5 separate regions of the Homo sapiens genome follow, and regions 2, 3, 4 and 5 are each linked to region 1. Evidence: fine-mapped expression QTL. A gene starts in region 1. Each other region holds a variant in brackets. All regions are shown on one strand. Distances are between the middles of the regions.

Evidence for each region. PIP is the estimated chance that this variant, and not a neighbour inherited with it, causes the effect. A credible set is the group of variants that fine-mapping cannot tell apart.
Region 2: its variant is the best candidate, but not a certain one, in a credible set for the expression of EIF6 in whole blood (TOPMed, PIP 0.58).
Region 3: its variant is the best candidate, but not a certain one, in a credible set for the expression of EIF6 in whole blood (TOPMed, PIP 0.80).
Region 4: its variant is the best candidate, but not a certain one, in a credible set for the expression of EIF6 in whole blood (TOPMed, PIP 0.90).
Region 5: its variant is the best candidate, but not a certain one, in a credible set for the expression of EIF6 in whole blood (TOPMed, PIP 0.83).

Annotation. Positions count from the first base shown.
Region 1 is chr20:35,282,255-35,286,356 of GRCh38, reverse strand. EIF6 (eukaryotic translation initiation factor 6) reads left to right here and starts at 1,585. Exons shown (of 7, transcript NM_002212.4): 1 at 1,585-1,631; 2 at 1,865-1,976; 3 at 2,096-2,181. The coding sequence starts at 1,870. It overlaps FAM83C (family with sequence similarity 83 member C), which reads left to right. Exons shown (of 4, transcript NM_178468.6): 4 at 1-626. FAM83C-AS1 (FAM83C antisense RNA 1) reads right to left here and starts at 1,106. Exons shown (of 2, transcript NR_109815.1): 1 at 1,042-1,106; 2 at 585-887. RefSeq lists an enhancer at 1,023-1,573 and a silencer at 1,666-1,855.
Region 2 is chr20:35,937,867-35,941,987 of GRCh38, reverse strand. It overlaps PHF20 (PHD finger protein 20), which reads right to left. Exons shown (of 18, transcript NM_016436.5): 16 at 2,880-3,291; 17 at 941-1,124. Among named protein-coding and RNA genes, the nearest start is that of SCAND1, 15 kb to the left of the region's middle. The variant C/T (reference allele first, on the strand shown) is at 2,505.
Region 3 is chr20:36,128,297-36,132,417 of GRCh38, reverse strand. It overlaps a transcript of EPB41L1 not described here. Among named protein-coding and RNA genes, the nearest start is that of EPB41L1, 24 kb to the left of the region's middle. RefSeq lists an enhancer at 2,930-3,431. The variant A/C (reference allele first, on the strand shown) is at 1,975.
Region 4 is chr20:35,203,417-35,207,537 of GRCh38, reverse strand. All of the region lies in intron 4 of MMP24-AS1-EDEM2 (MMP24-AS1-EDEM2 readthrough), which reads left to right. It also overlaps a transcript of PROCR not described here. Among named protein-coding and RNA genes, the nearest start is that of MMP24, 21 kb to the left of the region's middle. The variant G/A (reference allele first, on the strand shown) is at 2,341.
Region 5 is chr20:35,211,073-35,215,193 of GRCh38, reverse strand. The region is part of intron 4 of MMP24-AS1-EDEM2 (MMP24-AS1-EDEM2 readthrough); the gene reads left to right. It also overlaps a transcript of PROCR not described here. Among named protein-coding and RNA genes, the nearest start is that of MMP24, 14 kb to the left of the region's middle. The variant T/A (reference allele first, on the strand shown) is at 2,110.

The DNA.
Region 1 (4,102 bases):
ACCCTAACTAGTATCTTCTTGAATCTAGGCTGTGTTTCCAGCCCTGTGCTGGGCCTGTAGAGCTGACAGGTGGGTCACACTCAGACCTGGGGACAGAGGTGAAATGCACAAGCTGCTGGAGAAGGGGTCAGAGCCATATCAAGTTAAAGGTTAACCAGTTACAGAGGGTGTTAGAAAACAAAGGGCAGAGAGTCCTGGAGAAGGTGGAGTAGTCAGAAAACTTTCTTAGAGGAGATGGAGGTGGCCTTTGAGCCAGGCCCTGAAGGATGGGGAGGTTTTGGACAGAGGGAGGAGAGAGTTAGAAAAATTTTTGGTAGAGAGAATCAGGTGAAAGAGATGCCCTAAAGAGGACTGAGTGGGTCTGAGGTGAATGAGTGAGGAAGAGCAGAGTATGTGGATACCCGGAAACACACACACACACACATCATCATTATCATCATCATCATTGTCGTCGTCATCATCTTGCTGAGTCATCATCATCATCATCATCATTGTCGTCGTCATCATCTTGCTGAGTGTCTCTTGAAGTACAGGCTGTGACAGGTTGTGGGCCATTTTCCTGAACTCACCACTTACCCGGGATAGTAAACATGATACACATCAATAAAGGCAGACTTTATTGTGAATCACAGCGCCTGGTGTATCCTGAACTTTGAGGAGTTATGGGAGGGACACGTTGGGGGAATGGGAAGGGCACCATTCAGGCCAATTATGGGGAAACCCCTGGAGGAGGGTGAATGCCGAAGGAGGAATTGGGGGAGTCCAGGGGCTCCAAGTTACCACTGTGACATTTTGAGAGAACCCGGGGCTTTTGCAGATTCTACAAAATGTGGGCCAAGTTCATCCTGTCCAAGTGTGCAGCAGGGCCCTTGGCCCCCATCACTATCCTGGGGACAGAAGTTGGCTGCTGAGTGAGTGATAGAGGCCGTGCGAGAGGCACATCGTGGAAGCCAACCAGCACCCACATCCTTGCCCACCCTGGACCCCTTTCCAGCCTTTTCCTGAGCCCCTGCTTCCTCAGTCCTCCCCTCTCTCCAGCACCTGCAGCCTGGCTGCCTTTCCGTCTCTGGCTGCGCTCTTTCTCCAGCCTCGGTCTGGCCGCACTTCTGCCTCCTGGAACTCTCTCCATGGGTAGCCTCTTCTAGTCCACCCGTCTTCAGCCCCTCATCTCATTCGTCAGCACTCCACTCCCCTGCTGGGCTCCAGACATGGACTTCTGTCCCTCAAGGCACAGCTGGACTCATCCCTTTCCCCAAACCTGCCCTTCCTCCGGCTTCATTTCCATCAATACCTCCATCATCAACCCTTCCGCGAGACACTCCTGGCCCCTCCTCTCCCTCATGCCTCACAACCGACCAGCCGGAGGTCTAGGTCGATGACAGCTCCTAAAAAGCTCCTGAATGAATAATGAATGAATGAACGCGAGCAGGCTAGGCGTGGGGCCAGGCGGGGTCGCGCCCAGACCGCTCGCGACCATAGAGTCCGCCGGAGGCCGGAGGTAGAGGGGCTGGATGCGTGGCGGGGAGCGCCGGGCTCTCCCGGAAGTCTCCCTGGACGGAAGTGGAAACGGAAACCTTTTTAGGGAGTCCAAGGTACAGTCGCCGCGTGCGGAGCTTGTTACTGGTTACTTGGTAAGCTGGTGTGAGGGGAACCTGGGAGGGTCAGCTCCGGTCCTGGGTCGGGAGGGGTGGGGGCCAGAGGATTCAGGGCCGGAGGTTCTGGTGGGGGCCCAGTGGGCGGGACCCGAGGACGGAGGGGCCGGGAGGCCGAGAGGGGCGGGGTCGCGGCGGGGCCTGAGGGACGGAGGCCGGGATACTTGGGAAAGGATCCGCCGGCCTTGAACTCCCGCCTCCGCCGCCCCTAGGCCTCATGGCGGTCCGAGCTTCGTTCGAGAACAACTGTGAGATCGGCTGCTTTGCCAAGCTCACCAACACCTACTGTCTGGTAGCGATCGGAGGCTCAGAGAACTTCTACAGGTGCGGCGGGAGCCCCGGGGCTTACGGTGGCGGGGAGGCGTGCGCAGGAGTCAAGAGCTCCGGCAGTGGGAGGGTGCCGGCCCCTCTGCCCCGCCACCACCGAGTCCATGTCCCTACAGTGTGTTCGAGGGCGAGCTCTCCGATACCATCCCCGTGGTGCACGCGTCTATCGCCGGCTGCCGCATCATCGGGCGCATGTGTGTGGGTAAGGCAGGTGGAGGACGCCGAGGGAGGGAGTGGTCTCCAAGCACCATTAATTACACCCCCGGAGGGAACCCGGAGTGACCTAGGGATTCCCAGGGTATCATCTGTTATCTCTGGGCACTATAGAATCTCTCAGGCCAAGCGTCAGGAGATCGGGGCAACCCTCTAGCAAAGGCTGCTGGATAATAGTAATAACAAATAATGTAAAGTGCTTTCACTCCTGTTCTCATTCCTTCGTCACAAAGACACTAGAAGGTAGGAGTTACTGGCCTAACTTGACTGATGAGGAAGTTGAGACTTGACCTAAGTGACTCAGTAAGTTCCACACCTAGTTCCTAGTGTTGGAGAAGGATTTTTCTCTTTTTTTTTTTTTTTTGAGGCCAGATTTTTGCTCTTTCGCCCAGGCTGGAGTGCAGTGGCAAGATCACAGCTGTCTGCATCCTCAACTTCTTAGGCTCAAGTGATCCTCCCACCTCAGCCTACCAGGTAGCTAGGGCCACAGGCACGTGCCACCACACCTGGCTAATTTTTACATTTTTGGTAGAGACGCGGCCTCCCTGTGTTGCCCAGCCTGGCCTTGATCTCCTGGGCTCAAGTGATCTTCTTACCTTGGTCTCTTAAAGTGTTGGGATTATAGGCGAGAGCCACTATACCCAGCCGAGGATTTGTATCTCATCTCTCCCTGCCACTGACTGGGCAAGGTGCTTTCTCTTTCTAAGCATCCATTTCTGTCTCTGTAAAGATTAGCTAAGATATGCGGTCTTCCTGCTCAGTTACGTTGGAATCTTAAATTCCCTTTACCACATCTCTACCCTACCTTCCTACCTGTCAGCACTGTTAATTCTGGTCGTTGGTCCTTTCCTTTTTATTATTATTATTATTTTTTTTTGAGATGGAGTTTTCGCTCTTGTTGCCCAGGCTGGAGTGCAATGGCACGATCTTGGCTCACTGCAACACTCTCTTCAAGTGATTCTCCTGCCTCAGCCTCCCAAGTAGCTGGGATTACAGGCGCATCCCGCCACACCCGGCTAATTTTTTTGTATTTTTAGTAGAGATGGAGTTTCACCATGTTGGCCAGGCTGGTCTTGAACTCCTGACCTCAGGTGATCCTCCCACCTCGGCCTCCCAAAGTGCTGGGATTACAGGCGTGAGCCACTGCGCCCGGCCGGTCCTTTCATTAAGCTGGATCTGTCTTCCATTACTGCTGCCCATTGTTTCTTAGTTCTGCTCATTGAGGTCACTTTTAGAAGTCTGTTTATTTTATTTTTTTACTTTTACTTTAATTTTTAAAAATCTTAAGCCTGCTTGGGAGGTCGAGGCAGGTGGATCACCTGAGGTCAGCAGTTCGAGACTAACCTGACCAACATGGAGAAACCCCGTCTCTACTAAAAATACAGAAATTAGCCGGGTGTGGTGGCGCATACCTATAATCCCAGCTACTTGGGAGGCTGAGGCGGGAGAATTGCTTGAACCCTGGAGGTGGAGCTCACCCTGCGGTGAGCTGAGATTGTGCCATTGCATTTCAGCCTGGGCAATAAGAGTGAAACTGTGTCTCAAAAAAAAACAAAAAACAAAAAACAACAACAACAAAAACTTAAGCCTAGTGACCTCAAAGTATTTTCCTATTCAGTTAAAATACTCTGATCTCTAACCATGCCCTTAGGACTTGAAGCAAGTTCTGACAACAAGGGAGATTTTAGCTTAGTCCTTGTGTATTTTATGATGGGAGTGACCTGGAATTCAGAAATTGATTGGCGTGTATTTGTAGATTGTTCATTCTTGTTGCTGTATGGTGTGTTTTGTGTAAGTATATCACAACGTATTCATCCATTCCATCGACAGTGCATTTGGGCAGTTTTCACTTTGGTCTGTTAGGAATAGTGCTGCTGGCCGGGCATGGTGGCTCACGCCTGTAATCCCAG
Region 2 (4,121 bases), 660 kb before region 1:
AACAGGGCAACTCTTTTTCCAGTCTAGCCAGATCATCCACCCTGAGTCCTCTCCAGTAGGAAACACCATCACTCTCCTTAAAGCTCAACTTCAGTCTCAGGAGTTTTAGGAAGCCCTCCTATTAGCACTCTCCTCCTCTGCATTGACATCAGCCACATGTGTCCCGGCCACACCTCATGGCATCACTTGTATAACAGATGGCATTTTCTCCTGAGTTATTTCATGTATGTTTTATATTCCCAGTTACAGTAAAAAATCATAGCCAGACTGTACCCAGAATCCTCAAACAACATTTCTTTTTTAACTGGGCTCCATTTTCAACATGAAAACAAATAATTAGGGAATATTTCAACAACCAAAACCGTCAACTTCCTGGAGAGAGACTGAACTTGATCATGTTCATCATCACCGGTTTGATCCTCCAGGCCTGTCCGTAACCACCAATATCTGGAAGGAATACTCAGGGCTATACAAATGACTCAGGCAAATTCTCAAATCTCTACTGGCTTACGAGGAGAAAGCTTCATTTTAGATTTTATCAAAGATTGGAATAAGAGGTTTTTCAGATTAAATCCTCAGATATCCTAAAACTCAAGTCAAAATTTTAATTTCTCACAGAACTTGTTTGTAAAGATTGGCTTAGATCACATATTTCCTGCAAGCAGGACTGCCAGTTGCCCTCTCTCTGCATACTCAACTTTACAGAAGGGATCAGACAAGTGAGGCAGGACCCAACATCATGCAGATCTTGCACCTGATAAATACTAAAAGTAAGGCTCATCCATCCTGAGGGGAGAATGGAGGTGGGGAGAGGCTGAAAAGAAGAGAAGCAAAGAGTACAGCGGTCCCTGTAAACTCAGACTGGGGGGTTCAGAAAGCAGCTCGTCTGGGGGTGCTCGACTGCATGCCAATGCACAGGGGGCCAATGAAGGAGCCCTACCATCCAACTCCTTCTCAATGGAGTCCATCCTGTGCGTAACTTCATCCTGAAGAGATTCCACATGGGTCAGCAGGTTAAACTGCCACTGGTGCTGGGAGCTCAGCAGCCCCTCTCCACCTCTGTCCAGCAGCTTCCGAGCAGGGGCTTCTTCTGGTAGGGCCTTTTTGGAGACATATTCCTTCACCTGGGGATGCAATGGCATGGAAATTACTGAATGGAGATAGCCCCTGGCCCATTTTTCAACCAGCCAGCATTTCCAGCCACCTGAAATACTAGCTGCAGTTTCAATACTCCAAATCCCTACCTCCCTTTCCTATTTCCCACTTAGGAACTGGGCAGGAGCTTGCCCACTGTACCAATTCCAACTACCTCAGGGTAGCACTCTAGCTCAGGGGACCCACAGCTGCTTCCTACTGACTGGGCCAATGTCCTAGCCTAAAGTAAGCCTCACAGAATGGCTTCCAGAGCCCTGAGAGGTGATTAGAGCAGGGCTAGTGCAGACAAGGGTTAGTACACGGGAGTCACACCAACGCGTTTCAAGTCTCAGCTCCATCTCCTGCGAATGTGCGAGTCTGGATGGACTACTTCATGTCTCTGAGCCTCTGCTTTCTCGGTGGGAGGATGGGGGTACTAAAACCTATTTGGAAGGTTCATGAGGATGAAATAGGGTAAGGCACATAAAAGCAAGGCCAGCTTACAGTCAGCTTACCATCAATGGAAAAGACTGTTAGCCCTGGTTGCTTTGCTGAGGCCCAGTATTTCCTGGCTTTGTTTTATGTGCCAGATACCTCTAGGAAACCTGCCTGATCCACAGGACCACAAACCTTTTCTAGGATTTGGTAACTCAACCTTTCATTCATCCATTTGAAATGAAATAGATTCTAGCCAATATTTATTTAGTACTTACTATGTGCAAAACTGAGGGATTTTACTGAGGGATTTTCACAAATATGTTCCACAGTAACTGAGGGGGCTTCACTGGCCCCATTCTACAGGCGAGAAAACAGGTCTGATCAGGAAAGTGAAGTAACCCGCTCAGAATCACACAGTAAGGGGCTGAGCTCAGAATTGAAACTGCGTCTGTCTCAAAAGACTGTGTTCTTACCACCTTGCCCAACACCGTTTAGACATAGTCAAGGGCACAAGGATGCATGAGATACAATCCCCTCCCTTGAGGGGCTTGTAATCTAGGATCCCCTTGGCACCATGCAGCAATGTATTTAACACTGGTGACACCAACCTGCAGGAGAAAGTCTGGGAAGTAAGGATGATGAGACAGAGAAACTCTCAAATCATACAAAGCCTCACTGACAACTGAGGACAGGGCACAATGAGCCTAGTGAGCAGTTAGAGATGAAAACACCGGCAACGAGGTGATACAAGGGGGTTCTAGAAGAGAATGACTTGAATAACAAAAAACCAAAAGTGGCTCTTGGGAAAACTGATGAAACCAGCAATATTTTGACAAAGTGTACCATTTTTACCACAGGGCTTCAAAGTTAAAAGTCAAAATAAAGCTATCATACAACTGGATTGAAAAAATTCTGCCTAACAAAACATTTGA[C/T]TCATTGTTTGCTCATGCTAAGAATTAACATCTAGGTGCAATTATAATGCAAACTGCCTTAAAGAAAAGATGAGTTTTGCTAATCCATATCTCCTTGCTACTTCCCACCTCTCCCTCCCTCTGCACCCGCGCCCCCCACCCCACGTGCCACACTTGACTATGCCATTTTGTGGGTGCTTCCTGGAACCAAGGATCTTTGGCTTAAGTGGGCTCTCCTGACTTTGCACCCATTTTGGCAAACCAAAACATATCTATGGTAAGCAAATTTAAATACAGTTTTATTAATAAATATCTTCCATAGAGCATTCAAACTAGGAGGATAACTTGCAAGCATTCACGCAATGAATGAAGAACAAGTACAAGGCAGCCACATACCTTTGGGGAGCCGGGTTTGGGGTCACTGTCCCCCTTGCTCCTGTCTTGGTCTAGAGGCCAGCCCAGGCGCGGGGAAAGGGAATCATCGCCGTTCTCATGGAGGGGGTTGACCGCATCGTCGAGGGCAGAGCCCCTCGTCTCCACCACCAGCTTCTGCTCCACGGCAGGGTAATAGGCGCGGGGCTTCTGGTAGCAATGCTCACTGGTGATATAGGATTCCTCCACAGAACGCGGCAGGGGCAGGGCCAGGGGCCTGGGCTTCTCCACTGCCCCGTTCAAAGTTCTATAGCTTGGAGCTTCCTCCTTGCTCCTGGTGTCAGTGACAGGGATGTTTCTGAAATGAGATCTCCCCTCCCCTGAGTGCTGTTTCCAAGGCTGGCACCACAGCGGCAGATCAGGATGCTCCCGGCTTCTGTTGAGAGGACAAAGAGGACATGGGCTTTGGAGTAACTGGCACCATTGCAGGGGTTCTCAATTCCTAAATACTCTCCCAGTAGGGACAGCAGCTCCACCTGGGCCATCTGACCACACACTACCATTTGCTAAACAAGAGCGAATGTGAATCCGTGGTCTCCTAGGAGACCACTCCTTAGTGAGCTCCCACTGTGGTCACACACAGTGAGTGGGACTGGACTCTCAGTCAGAAGACCTGACTGGATTTCAACTCTGGGACAACTCACTCAACCAGCATCATTCCTACTTCCTCCTCTGTGAAACTGGGCTAATTATCTGTCTGATCTGTCTGCTATTGTAAACCAAAAATAAAATTCTAAGCCCCTCAACCAACCTGAATGGACCCCTCCTCTTGGCCAAGAGCATTCCAACATTAAACTGAAACACTAGTTCAGGCCATGATGGGAAGGGAGTCAGACAAGCCACATTATACCCTTCTCCCTTTGGAATTCATGCACAACTGACCAGCATTAACATTAAAACGGGCCGGGGGCGGTGGCTCACACCTGTAATCCCAGCACTTTGGGAGGCCGAGGCAGGAGGATCACGAGGTCAGGAGATCGAGACCATCCTGGCTAACACGGTGAAACCCCGCCTCTACTAAAATACAAAAAAAATTAGCTGGACGTGGTGGCGGGTGCCTGTTGTCCCAGCTACTTGGGAGGCTGAGGCAGGAGAATGCCGTGAACCCAGGAGGCAGAGCTTGCAGTGAGCCAAGATTGCGCCACTGCACTCCAGCCTGGGCGACAGCAAGACTCCGTCTCAAAAAACAAAACAAAACAAAACAAC
Region 3 (4,121 bases), 850 kb before region 1:
GGTTCTTGTAAGTCAAAAGGGGATTTGGGGGAATCGGAGGAGATATGATGACGGAGGCAGAGGTGGGAGGGACCCAGCTACTAGAAGGGGCCATGAACCAAGGCATGTGGGTGGCCTGGAGAGCTGGAAAAGGCCAGGTGAGGATCCTCCCCTAGCAGCTCTGCCAACACCCTGACTTCGGCCCCATAAGGTCCATTTTCAGATTTTGACCTCTAGAAGTCTAGGGTCATCCATTTGTGTTGTTTTAAGTATATGGTCATTTGTTAGGGCAGCATTAGGAAACTGACACAGTCACCTAGGGAGGGGTCCTCAGAACTCACCTTTCCCTCCAGACTGAAACGCCCTCCTCAAGGGCTAGCCAGGGAGATTCCTTGGGGCCAGATGTCCCCTGGATATACCTCTGGGGAACAGGCCTGAGCTGGGGCCCCAAGCTCTAACCTAGAGAGATAACTTTGTGGGGGAAAGCACCCCAGAAAGAAGGTGACGGCTCTGGGAGGAAAGGGAGAGACCCCACCTTATAGATCCATCCAGGCCCTCCACCCCTCCCACATATTCTTGAACAGAGGGCCACCTACGCCATAAACCACACCATCCACAGCAGTAGCCTGGCATCAGGGAAAGAGAGCACTGGAGGCAGGAAGCCTGATTCTGGCCTCAGCTCTGCCCCTGCATCACTAGGTGGTGAGAGATCAGCCCCTTCCTCTCTCTAGGCCTGACCATTGTCATCCTGGCTTACCGTAGTATTTCAAGTGTCTTCCATGCTTTCATGCACAGAAAGCCTCACAGGGACCCTGTGAGGTAGCTCCCTGTCATGATGTTCACTTTACAGCTGAGGAAGTGGACACAAGGTGGTTAAGAGGGGAGGCTGGTTTGAACCCAGGCAGCCTGACACCACAGCCCTATTCTGCCTCCCGCCTTAGGATGAATGAATGCATGGACAGAGGACAGTTGGGAGCAGTCCCTACACACAAGGAACAGGCTCTTCAGACCTAAGAGAAATAAAAAACAGGCTGGGTGTGGTGGCTCACACCTGTAATCTCAGCACTTTGGGAGGCCAAGGTGGGTGGATCACCTGACGTCAGGAATTTGAGACTAGCCTGGCCAACATGGTGAAACCCCATCTTTACTAAAAATACAAAAATTAGCCAGGCGCGGTGGCTCATGCCTGAAATCCCAGCACTTTGGGAGGCCGAGGCGGGCGGATCACCAGAGGCCAGGAGTTCAAGACCAGCCTGACCAACATAGAGAAACCCCATCTCTACTAAAAATACAAAATTAGCTGGGCGTGGTGGCACATGCCTGTAACCCCAGCTACTCGGGAGGCTGAGGCAGGAGAATCACTTGAACCCAGGAGGCAGAGGCTGCAGTGAGCCAAGATTGAGCCATTGCACTCCAGCCTGGGCAACAAGAGCAAAATTCTGTCTCAAAAAAAAAAAAAAAAATTAGCCGGGTGTGGTGGCGGGCTCCTGTAATCCCAGCTACTCAGGAGGCTGAGACAGGAGAATCCCTTGAACCCAGAGGCAGAGGTTACAGTGAGCCGAGATCATGCCACTGTACTCCAGCCTGGGCAACAAGAGCAAAACTCTGTCTCGGGGAAAAAAAGAGAGAGAGAGAGAGAGAGAGAGAGAGAAATTTTTAAAAATCAAATAGAGAGAGAGAGAAAAATAAAAAACAGTTCCTGCCATTCACCCTGGATGCTGGGGGTTAAAGGTTGGCATAGCAGTTTGGCAAGTTTACTGAGAGCCTCTAAGGCAGCCACAGCCTTTTACCCAGCATTCTCTTCCTGGGTCTTCACCCCAAGAGACATCATCATCTGAAATACAGGAAGAACATTTTATGCAATGTTCATTGCACTGTTATTCATAATAGCAAAAACTAGAAACAGCCGGAATATCCATGAGCAGGAAAAGGGATGAGTTGATCGTGTATTTAATAGAATCCTCAGTAACGACACGGAAGGCAGCTTCCGATACA[A/C]CATTAAGAGAAAAATGCAGGACAGTACTGATGATGCGGTAGAAATTATGACTGTGCAAGAAAGAGCAAAGGAAAACTGGTGAAAGGAAACACTCCAAGCTCCCAATCATATTCAGGAGTAATTTTTTTCTGCTTCCTGTTTTCCCAAATCTTGGTACTATGTTATTATGGTTTTAATTAAAAAAAACAAAAAAAAAAACACTGCTGGGCAAGGTGGCTCATGCCTGTAATCCCAGCATTTTCGAAGGCCAAGGCGAGCAGATCACTTGAGGTCAGGAGTTCGAAATCAGCCTGGCCAATATGGAGAAATACCGTCTCTACTAAAAATAGAAAAATTAATTGGGCATGGTGGCGGGTGCCTGTAATCCCAGCTACTTGGGAGGCTGAGGCATGAGAATCACTTGAACCTGGGGGGCGGAGGTTGCAGTAAGCTGAGATCACGCCACTGCACTCCAGGCTGAGTGACAGAGCAAGACTCCGTCTCAAAAAAAAAAAACAAAAAAAAAAAACAAACCTGCCGGGTGCAGTGGCACACTCTGTAATCCCGGCTACTCTGGAGGCTGAAGTAGGAGGATCCCTTGAGTCAAAGAGTTTGAGGCTGTGATTGCACCTGTGAGTTGCCACTGCACTCCAGCCTGGCCAACATAATGAGCTCTCATTTGTAATTTTTAAAATAAATGAATAAATTGAATTTTTAAAATTAAAAAACGGTATTATTTTAAAAACGACAATAACTGCAATGCAGCCCTGAGGAACCCACACACTGAACAGTTAAGGAGAGGAGCAGCAACAGGCAAATGAGGGCAGGCCAGAGTGAGAAAGCCAGAAAGTGGGGTGTGCTGTCCCAGAGACCAAGGAGAGGGAGTGCTTCGGGAGCAGTGAGCCTGGGGTCAGGGTGGCCTGGGACCCGCTAGTGACCCAATGCTTGCCCTTATGCCTCCCAACTGCATTCATAATGCAAACCAGGTGCCAAGAATGATCTAACAATCGGCCCTCACACATTCCCCAGGAAGGCGTCTGAAAAAGTGCCCCCACCATGACCAGTGGCTCCAGGAGCAGTATTTACAATGCAAACCAGGCTCCCCCCAGGAGAAGCGGTAACTTACCACACCCGTGGCCATTCACCCCGCAGTCCAGCCCAAGCAAAACAGAAGAGGCCTCACGTACAAGAGCCTGGTCAGAATTTTCTGGTGTCTTCAGAATAGGACTCTTGGTCCATACCATTCACCAATTCTACCACCTGTGTTTCCACAGGGACTCGCAAACCAAACCACTCCCAGGACCCACCCCTCACCCCCACCCATGCTGGCTTCTTAGGCCCATCCCTCAGCCTCTTTGAGACATGTCCCTTAGATTCTGTGCCTCCTCCATGTAAGCTACACAAGCTTGCCCAGAGAGTCACATCTCATTGGCACAAATTCACCCACCCACACACCCACCAGCCTTTTTTCTTCTGAGAATGCCCCTTCCTCCCTCTCTCCACCCACCTCATCCAGGACCCCAGGCAAACCTCAGCAAAGGAGGGAAGGTCCCCCAGCAACTCATGCCTGACTTCAACATCCCATCCCTGCCTCCCACCACACCTGTGACAGACAGTGGCCAGGTCTGGCTGCTGCCTCTAGACCCCAGAGGTGGAGAGAGGCTAGGTCACAAAGCTAAAAACTAAACCAGGCTCTGAAGGCCAACTAAGAAGTCCTCTCTGACCCTCAACCTGGTGAGTCGACAAGAAGCAGGGCTGAGTCACTACCAGATGCAACCCCATCACCCCATGCTAAGAAATTGACATTGCTTACAGCCCAAATGCACGGGTCATCCTCCTGGGCAGCCTGTGGTAATGAGTGTCACGGGGCCAAGGCAGGGCCAGTACCAATTAAGGCTGCTCCCTTTCCTGCCAGTGAGCTCAGTCTCATTACTTTGCTCCATTTTCAGCTCATCTGAAAAATCCTCATTTGAGGTCCCTGGAGGATCTTAAAAGTGTTATTTAAACATTAGCTCTGACACACAGCCTCCCCCATCCACCCAAGGCCAATACTTTTTTCTCCCTGCTTTTTGGCACTGCCAGGAATGAGCAGCATCTAAGGCCCGGCCTGGGGCACCTCAGGTCTTGCAGCCTAGGGCCCCTCCTCAGTCTGAACTTTCCCCATCTC
Region 4 (4,121 bases), 79 kb after region 1:
CAAAACAAAACAGTCCTAACTAATTTCAGGCTCAAGAAAGAATAATTGTACAAATACAAAATCTGTGAGATATGACTTGATAGTAATATGAGGGGAAAAAGCTTTTAAAAATATTCATATGTGTATATATATATATATATATATACACAAACATACACATAATAGATTTGCATACATATAATTTAATTGTAATTTACATTCAGTAAAATTTACATTTTGGTGTAGAGTTCTGTGAGTTTTGACAAATGCAAAGAATTATGTAAACACCACCACACACAAACAAAAAAATAAAACAGTTAATCACCTTCCCAAATTCCCTTTTGTTACCCCTTTGTAGTCAAAGCCTTCCCTACCCTTAAGCCCTGGCAACACTGATATGTTCTCTATTCCTATAGTTTTTTCTTTTCCAGACTGTCATATAAAATGGAACCATACAATATGTTGTATTTTGAATTTGGCTTCTTTCACTTGGCATAATGGATTTAAGATTCATCCATGTTGTTGAGTGTATCAGTAGTCAATTCCTTTTCATTGCTGAGTAGTAGTGTATTGTATGGATGTACCACAGTTTGTTACTCCACTTCCCAGTTGAGGAATATTTAGGTTGTTTCTAGTTTTGGCAATTATGAATAAAGCTTCTGTAAACATTCACGTACAGGTTTTGGTATGAACATAAATTTTCATTTTACTTGGGCTAATTTCTAGGAGGGATTGTTGGAGCCTATGGTAAGTGTGTGTTTAACTTTATAAGAAACCTAGAGGGGCTGTATCATTTTGTTTTCCCACCAGTAATTTATGAGAGTGGCAGTTGTTCCGCCTTCTCACCAACAATTGGTATTGTCAGGGATTTTTTTCAATTTCAATAGGTGTATAGACATACCTTACTGTGGTTTTAATTTGCAATTCCCTACCAACAAATGATGTTGAGCATATTTTCAAATATTTATTTGCCATCCATGTATCTTCTCTGGTGAGGTGCCTGTTCAAAACTTTTGCCTTTTTAAAAAATTGTTTGTTTTCTTATTTCTGAGTTTTGAGAGTTTTTTTTTTTTTTTTTTTTTTTGAGATAGAGTCTCACACTGTTGCCCAGGCTGGACTGCAGTGACGCCATCTTGGCTTACTGCAACCTCTGCCTCCCGGGTTCAAGTGATTGTCCTGCCTCATTCTCCTGAGTAGCTGGGATTACAGGTGCCTGCCACCATGCCTGGCTAATTTTTTTGTATTTTTAGTAGAGACGAGGTTTCACTATGTTGGCCAGGCTGGTCTTGAACTCCTGACCTCGTGATCCGCCTGCCTCAGCCTCCCAAAGTGCTGGGATTACAGGCATGAGGCACTGCGCCCTACTGAGGGTTCTTTATAAATTCTAGGCCAGGCACAGTGGCTCATGCCTGTAGTCCTAGTGCTTTGGGAGGCTGAGCAGGAGGATCACTTGAGGTCAGAAGTTTGAGACCAGCCTGGGCAACATACAAAAATCCTGTCTCTACCAAAAATAAAATAAAATAAAATTTTTTAAAAATGTTAAAAAATAAATTCTGGATTCAAGTCCTTTGTTAGAAATGTGATTTGCGGTCAAGTGCAGTGGCTCACACCTGTAATCCCAGCACTTTGGGAGGCCGAGGTTGGGGGGGGGATCACCGGAGGTCATACACATATATACATATATACATGTATACATATGTATATGTATACATGTATATATGTATATGTAGATATATGTATATATGTACATATATATGTGTGTATATATACATATATATATATATATATATATATATATATATATATTTAGACAGAGTTTTGTCCTTGTTGCCCAGGCTGGAGTGCAATGGCATGATCTTGGCTCACTGCAACCTCCACCTCCCAGGTTCAAGCAATTCTCCTGCCTCAGCCTCCCGAGTAGCTGGGATTACAAGCATGCACCACCACACCCGGCTAATTTTGTATTTTTAGTGGAGACGAGGTTTCTCCACGTTGGTAAGGCTGGTCTTGAACTCTGGACCTCAGGTGATCCGCCTGCCTCGGCCTCCCAAAGTGCTGGGATTATAGGTGTGAGCCACTGCGCCCGGCCAATATATATATATATTTTTGGATTAACGAAGTTTCCTTCTCTAGTTTGCTGAGAGATTTTTTTTTTTTTATCATGAATGGGTTTTAAATTTTGTTAATGCATTTTCTTCATCAGTTAGGATTATCATGTGTTTTTTTCTTCCTTAGTCTGCCAATATGGTGAATTATGCTCATTTATTTATTATTATTATTATTATTGAGATGGAGTCTTGCTCTGTCCCCCAAGCTGGAGTACAGTGGTGCGATCTCAGCTCACTGCAACTTCCACCTCCC[G/A]GGTTCAAGCAATTCTCCTGCCTCAGCCTCCCAAGTAGCTGGGACTACTAGTGCACACCACCATACCCAGCTAATTTTTGTATTTTTAGTAGAGACGGGGTTTCACCACGTTGGCCAGGCTGGTCTCAAACTCTTGACCTCAGGTGATCTGCCCGCTTCACCCTCCCAAAGTGCTGGGATTACAGGCGTGAGCCACCATGCCTGGCTATTTTTGAATGTTACACCAGCATTAAATTACCTGGGATAAACTCCACATAGTAGTGAAGTATTATTTTTTAAAAATATATATATATTTCTGGATTCCTTTGCTAATAGTTTGTAGTTTGTTGAAGTTTTGGGGTATATGTTCATGTGAAGTATTGTTCTATAGTTTTCTTGTTATCTTTTTCAAATTTTGGCATCAGGACCATGCTGCCTTCATAAAATGAGCTAAGTTTTTTTGATTTTCTGGAAGAGTTTGTGTGGAATTGATACTATTTCTTTCTTTAACATTTGGTAGAATTTCCCAGTGAAACCATTTGGGGGCCAGGCATGGTGGCGCATGCCTGTAATCCCAGCACTTTGGGAAGCTAAGGCAGGCAGATTGCTTGAGCCAGGAGTTCGAGACCAGCCTGGGCAACATGATGAAAACCCATCTCTACTAAAAATACAAAAAAATTTGCTGGGTGTGGAAGTCTTGGCTGCAGTGAGCTGTGATTGCACCACTGTACTCCAGCCTGAATAACAGGAGTGAGTCCCTGCCACAAAGAAAAGAAAGAAAAGGAAAGAAAAGAAAAGAGAAAAGGAAAGAAAAGAGAGAAGGAAGGAAGGAAGGAGGGAGGGAGGGAGGGAAGGAGGGAGGGAGGGAGGAAGGAAGGAAAAGAAAAGAAACCTTCTGGGCCTGGAGTTTTCTTCTCTACATTGGAAGGTTTTAAACTATGAATTAAATTTTCTTTAGTACATTTAGGACTATTTCTCTGATCTGTTTCTTCTGGACTGAGTTTAGGTAATTTGTGTCTTTCAAGAAATTGGTCCATTTCCTCTAAGTTGTCAAACTTATGAGCATAGAGTTGTTTGTAATATTCTCTTATTATCCTTTTAATATCTGGAGGGTCTGAAGTGACATCCCCTCTTTCATTCCTGATATTAGTAATTTATGTCTTCTCTCTTTCTTTTCCTTGGTAAATCTGTCAAAAAGTTTATGAATTCTGTACACCTTTTCAAAGCTTTTGGTTTTATTGATTGTTCTCTATTTTTTTCTGTTTTCAATTTCATTGAATTCTGCTTTTCTAATTTCTTTTTCTTCTGCTTGATTTAGGTTTAATTTGTTCTTTCTCTAGTTTCTTAAGGTAGAAGCTTAGAGTATGATTTGAGGCCTTTCTTTTTTCTATCATAGGCATGTAAAGCTATAAATGTTCCTGTACACGCTGCATTAGCTGCAACCCATAAATTTTGATATGTTTTGTTTTGATGTTCAGTCAGTTCAAATATTTTCTGATTTACTTTAAGATTTTTTCTCTGACCCATGGATTATTTAGAAGTATATTAACAATTTCTAAATATTTGAGAGTTCTCTTTTTTTTCTTTTTTTTCTTTTTTTTTGAGACAGAGTCTTGTTCTGTTACCCAGGCTGGAGTGCAGTGGTGCGATCTCAGCTCACTGCAACCTCCACCTCCTGGATTCAAGCAATTCTCCTGCCTCAGCCTCCTGAATAGCTGAGATTACAGGCGCGCACTATCACGCCCAAGAGTTCGTCTAAAAAGAAAAACAATAATAAATAAAAGTTATGTTTATACTATATT
Region 5 (4,121 bases), 71 kb after region 1:
CACGCCCGTAATCCCAGCACCTTTGGGAGGCTGAGGCGGGTGGATCACTTGAGGTCAGGAGTTTGAGACCAGCCTGACCAACATGGGTGAAACCCCGTTTCTACTAAAAACACAAAAAAATTAGCCTGGCTTGGTGGCGCGTGCCTGTAATCCCAGCTACTCAGGAGGCCGAGGCAGGAGAATCTCTTGAACCCAGGAGACAGAGGTTGCAGTGAGCTGAGATGGTGCCACTGCACTTCAGCCTGGGCTACAGAGTGAGACTCCATCTCAAAAAAAAAAAAAAAAAGAAAAAGAAAATGGGAGGTAAAGGCCTGGAGGAAGGAAAAGGTCTGATTGTTCAGGATCTAGAGAAGGTCCCAGTCCAATCCCCCGACTCAGTCTCAATGTCCAGCCCCAAATGACTTGAGAGTATTTCTTACTCAGGTTTCTCCCTTAAAAGCATATTCAAACCAATGCATACAATGGGACACTATGCAGCCTTTTGTAATTTTTTTTTTTTTTTTTTGAGATGGAGTTTCGCTCTGTCGCCCAGGCTGGAGTGCAGTGGCGCGATCTCGGCTCACTGCAACCTCCACCTCCTGGGTTCAAGCAATTCTCCTGCCTCAGCCTCCCGAGTAGCTGGGATTACAGGCGCCCACCACCACGCCTAGCTAATTTTTTTGTATTTTTTTAGTAGAGGCAGGGTTTCACCGTGATAGCCAGGATGGTCTCGATCTCCTGACCTTGTGATCCACCCGCCTTGGACTCCCAAAGTGCTGGGATTACAGGCGTGAGCCACCGCGCCCGGCCCAATGCAGCCATTTTTTAAAATGAGGAAGTACTTACGAATTTATGAATAATTAGGACATTATTTCCAAAATGTAATGTTAAGTGGTAAAAAAAAGGCAAAGGTGCAGAATCCTGGATATTGTAGGCTACTATTTGTGTAATAATCGGAAAAAAGAATACATGTGTGTGCATGCACTTGCTCATTTACACATAAAATAGGGACAGATACCCAAGGAACTGATAATAGTGCTTACTTCCTGGAGGGAAGCTTAAGTGGTTTGAGGACAGGGTGGGAAGGCAATTTTTATTTTTATTTTTTAATTTTTTTTAATTATTTTATTTTATTTTTTTGAGATGGAGTCACGCTCTGTTACCCAGGCTGGAGTGCAGTGGCACAGTCTCGGCTCACCGAAACCTCTGCCTCCTGGGTTGGAGCAATTCTCTTGCCTCAGCCTCCGAAGTAGCTAGAACTACAGGCAAACACCACAAAGCCCAGCTATTTTTTATATTTTTAGTAGAGACAGTGTTTCACCATGTTGGGCAGGCTGGTCTCGAACTCCTGGCCTCATGTGATCCGCCTGCCTTGGCCTCCCAAAAGTGCTGGGATTACAGGTGGGAGCCACCATGCCTGGCTGGAAGGAGATTTTTCTCACTGTATACCTTTTTGTATCTTTTGACTTTTTAATCATGTGGATATATTATCTCTTCAAAAAATAAGTACAAGCTGAGCATTTTTTCCCTTTAATATTGTATGTTCTCCAAATGAACAAGCTGAGCTTCTAAAAAAATAAGTGTAATAGTCTCTAAAGGCCACTCCCTGAAAAGAGGGCTTATATTGCAAAATACTGGTATACAGTGAAAGCAGTAACAGTTCACTTAGGTTTCAAAAATTCAGGCCTTCATCTGCATGGCCAAAAAAAAAGCAGAAATAAAGCAACAAACTATAAACTAGGTAAAATATTTATTATTATTTTTTTAACGTAAAACAGCTGTTATAAACCAATAAGAAAAAGACCTATGACCCAATTCAATAATGGCGAAGGACTAAATGGGCTTCATGCAAACAGAAATATAAATGGACTCTTTTTTTTTTTTGAGACAGTCTCGCTCCGTTACCCAGGATGGAGTGCAGTGGCACGATCTTAACTCACTGCAACCTCTGCTTCCTTGGTTCAAGCGATTCTCATGTCTCAGCCTCCCAAGTAGCTGGGACTACAGGCACATGCCACCATACCTGACTAATTTTTTTGTGTTTTTTGTAGAGACGCGGTTTTGCCGTGTTGGCCAGGCTGATCTGGAACTCTTGGCCTCAAGTGATCCATCTGCCTCGGCCTCCCAAAG[T/A]GCTGGGATTATGGGCGTGAGCCACTGTGCCTGGCCTGAACAGACTCCTATAATAATTTTTTAAATGACCAACCATGTTTGTAATTAAAGAAAGGCAAATTAAGACAATCAGCCACTGCTTTCTTAACATTATCAGACTGCAAATACCAAAAGGTTGGATACTACAGAGTGTTAAAGAGGGCATGATAAAACAGATACTCCTCCATACTGTTGGAAGAGATACAAATTGGTTTACTCTCTTCAGGTCACCAACTGGCAATGCCTATCAACCTTGAAAATGAGCATACCTTTGACCCATCAATTCTAATTCTGAGAATTTATCCTAGATAGATATCCTTGCATAGGTGCAAACACAAAATTATTTGTAGCAAATTATTCAATTGCCTCATTCTTTGTAATTACAAAACACCAAAATCAACCTAAGTACTTTCCAGTTGGGGAAATTGCTACATCTAAACTGAGGAATACACTGGGAAGAAGTTGAAAATGGTGTGGCTGTGTATTACTGTTACGACAAGACCTTGATTTAGCCCCTTCATTATCTCTTACTTGGACCGCAGTAATAACTTCCCAGCAGGTCTCCCTGCCTTCATCTTGCCCTCTTGCAGGACCTGCTACGTAATTTGCAGGGCCCAGTGCAAAAATGAAAATGCAAGTCTCCTTGTTAAAAAAAAAATAAGAATTTCAAAATGATGACAGCAGAACATTAAAACAAGCGTGAGGGCCCTTCTAAGAGGGGGGCCCTGTGTGACTACAGAGGTCACAAGTCCATGAAGCAGGTCTTGCCCCTTGAGTGTCACTTGGACACTGGCTGCCCATGTGACATGCTGCATCCTCTGCCTGGAACATCCTTCCACTGCCATCTCTTTTTCTCTATGATGTACTACACGCCTGCCAATAAATAACTCTAATGTGACCTCCTTTGGGAAGTTTTCCCAAAGTCTTAAAAAGTTCTTACTCAAAGTCTTACAAAGTTCTTACTCAAATCACTCTTTCTTCAGTACTCCCCTAGCTCTTGCACATAGTTTTATTAACTCTTTATCACAGTGTTTGTTTTTTTTTTTCTTGAGACAGAGTTTCACTCTTGTAACCCAGGCTGGAGTGCAGTGGCATGATCTTGGCTCACTACAACCTCTGCCTCCTAGGTTCAAGCAATTCTCCTGCTCTCAGTCTCCCAAGTAGCTGGGATTACAGTTGTGAGCCACCACACCCAGCTAATTTTTTTATATTTTTAGTAGAGATGGTGTTTCACCATGTTGGCCAGGCTGGTCTCAAACTCCTGATCTCGGGTGATCCTCCTGCCTCAGCCTTCCAAAGTGCTGATATTACAGGCGTGAGCCACCACGCCCAGCCGATCACAGTGTTTTTATAATTATTTCTTTAAAAGTTTCTCTCCTAGAGTTTCTGCAGGACTTGGCCTATGGATTGTGCTTTGTTTGTTTTTTGGGTAACTCTGGCACCTCATACATTACCTAGCACATGGGAGTTGAGAGAATGAATCAGCTGGAGTGGATGTATTTGGATGGGTGTGTTAAAAAATCAGCCATATATTGCTTCACAGTTACACCTCATCTTCAGGTTGTTAAATCTGACTGGACTCTTAATTTAATAGAGGCCAGCAGGTCCTGATGACTGGTTCTTCATTCCAGGAGCCATAGAATAGTATCAGACAGTCCCTTGAAGGGGTGGGAGGTACCTGGACCTGAAAATTTTGGAGGCTCCCGCAAGCCATTTACACCTATCTCTGAATCTCCTTATACCTTTCACGCTTTTAAAATGGAGGTGCAATCTCATTAGGGCCCACTGGCCCCATCAATCAGTGCCAGGTTCCAGGAACCCAGTAGTTTCAGATTGCCCCCAGTCCTTTGCAACACTGGTTTTCAAATGGGGTATGCAATAGCCGTAAAGTAAATGAAGGCTTGGTAAGCGGTACTCATGCATGGATATATTTAAGGAAATTCATTTCCAGATCCTCAACTTCCAGATGTACTCCACCTGAGAAAGTTCCTGGG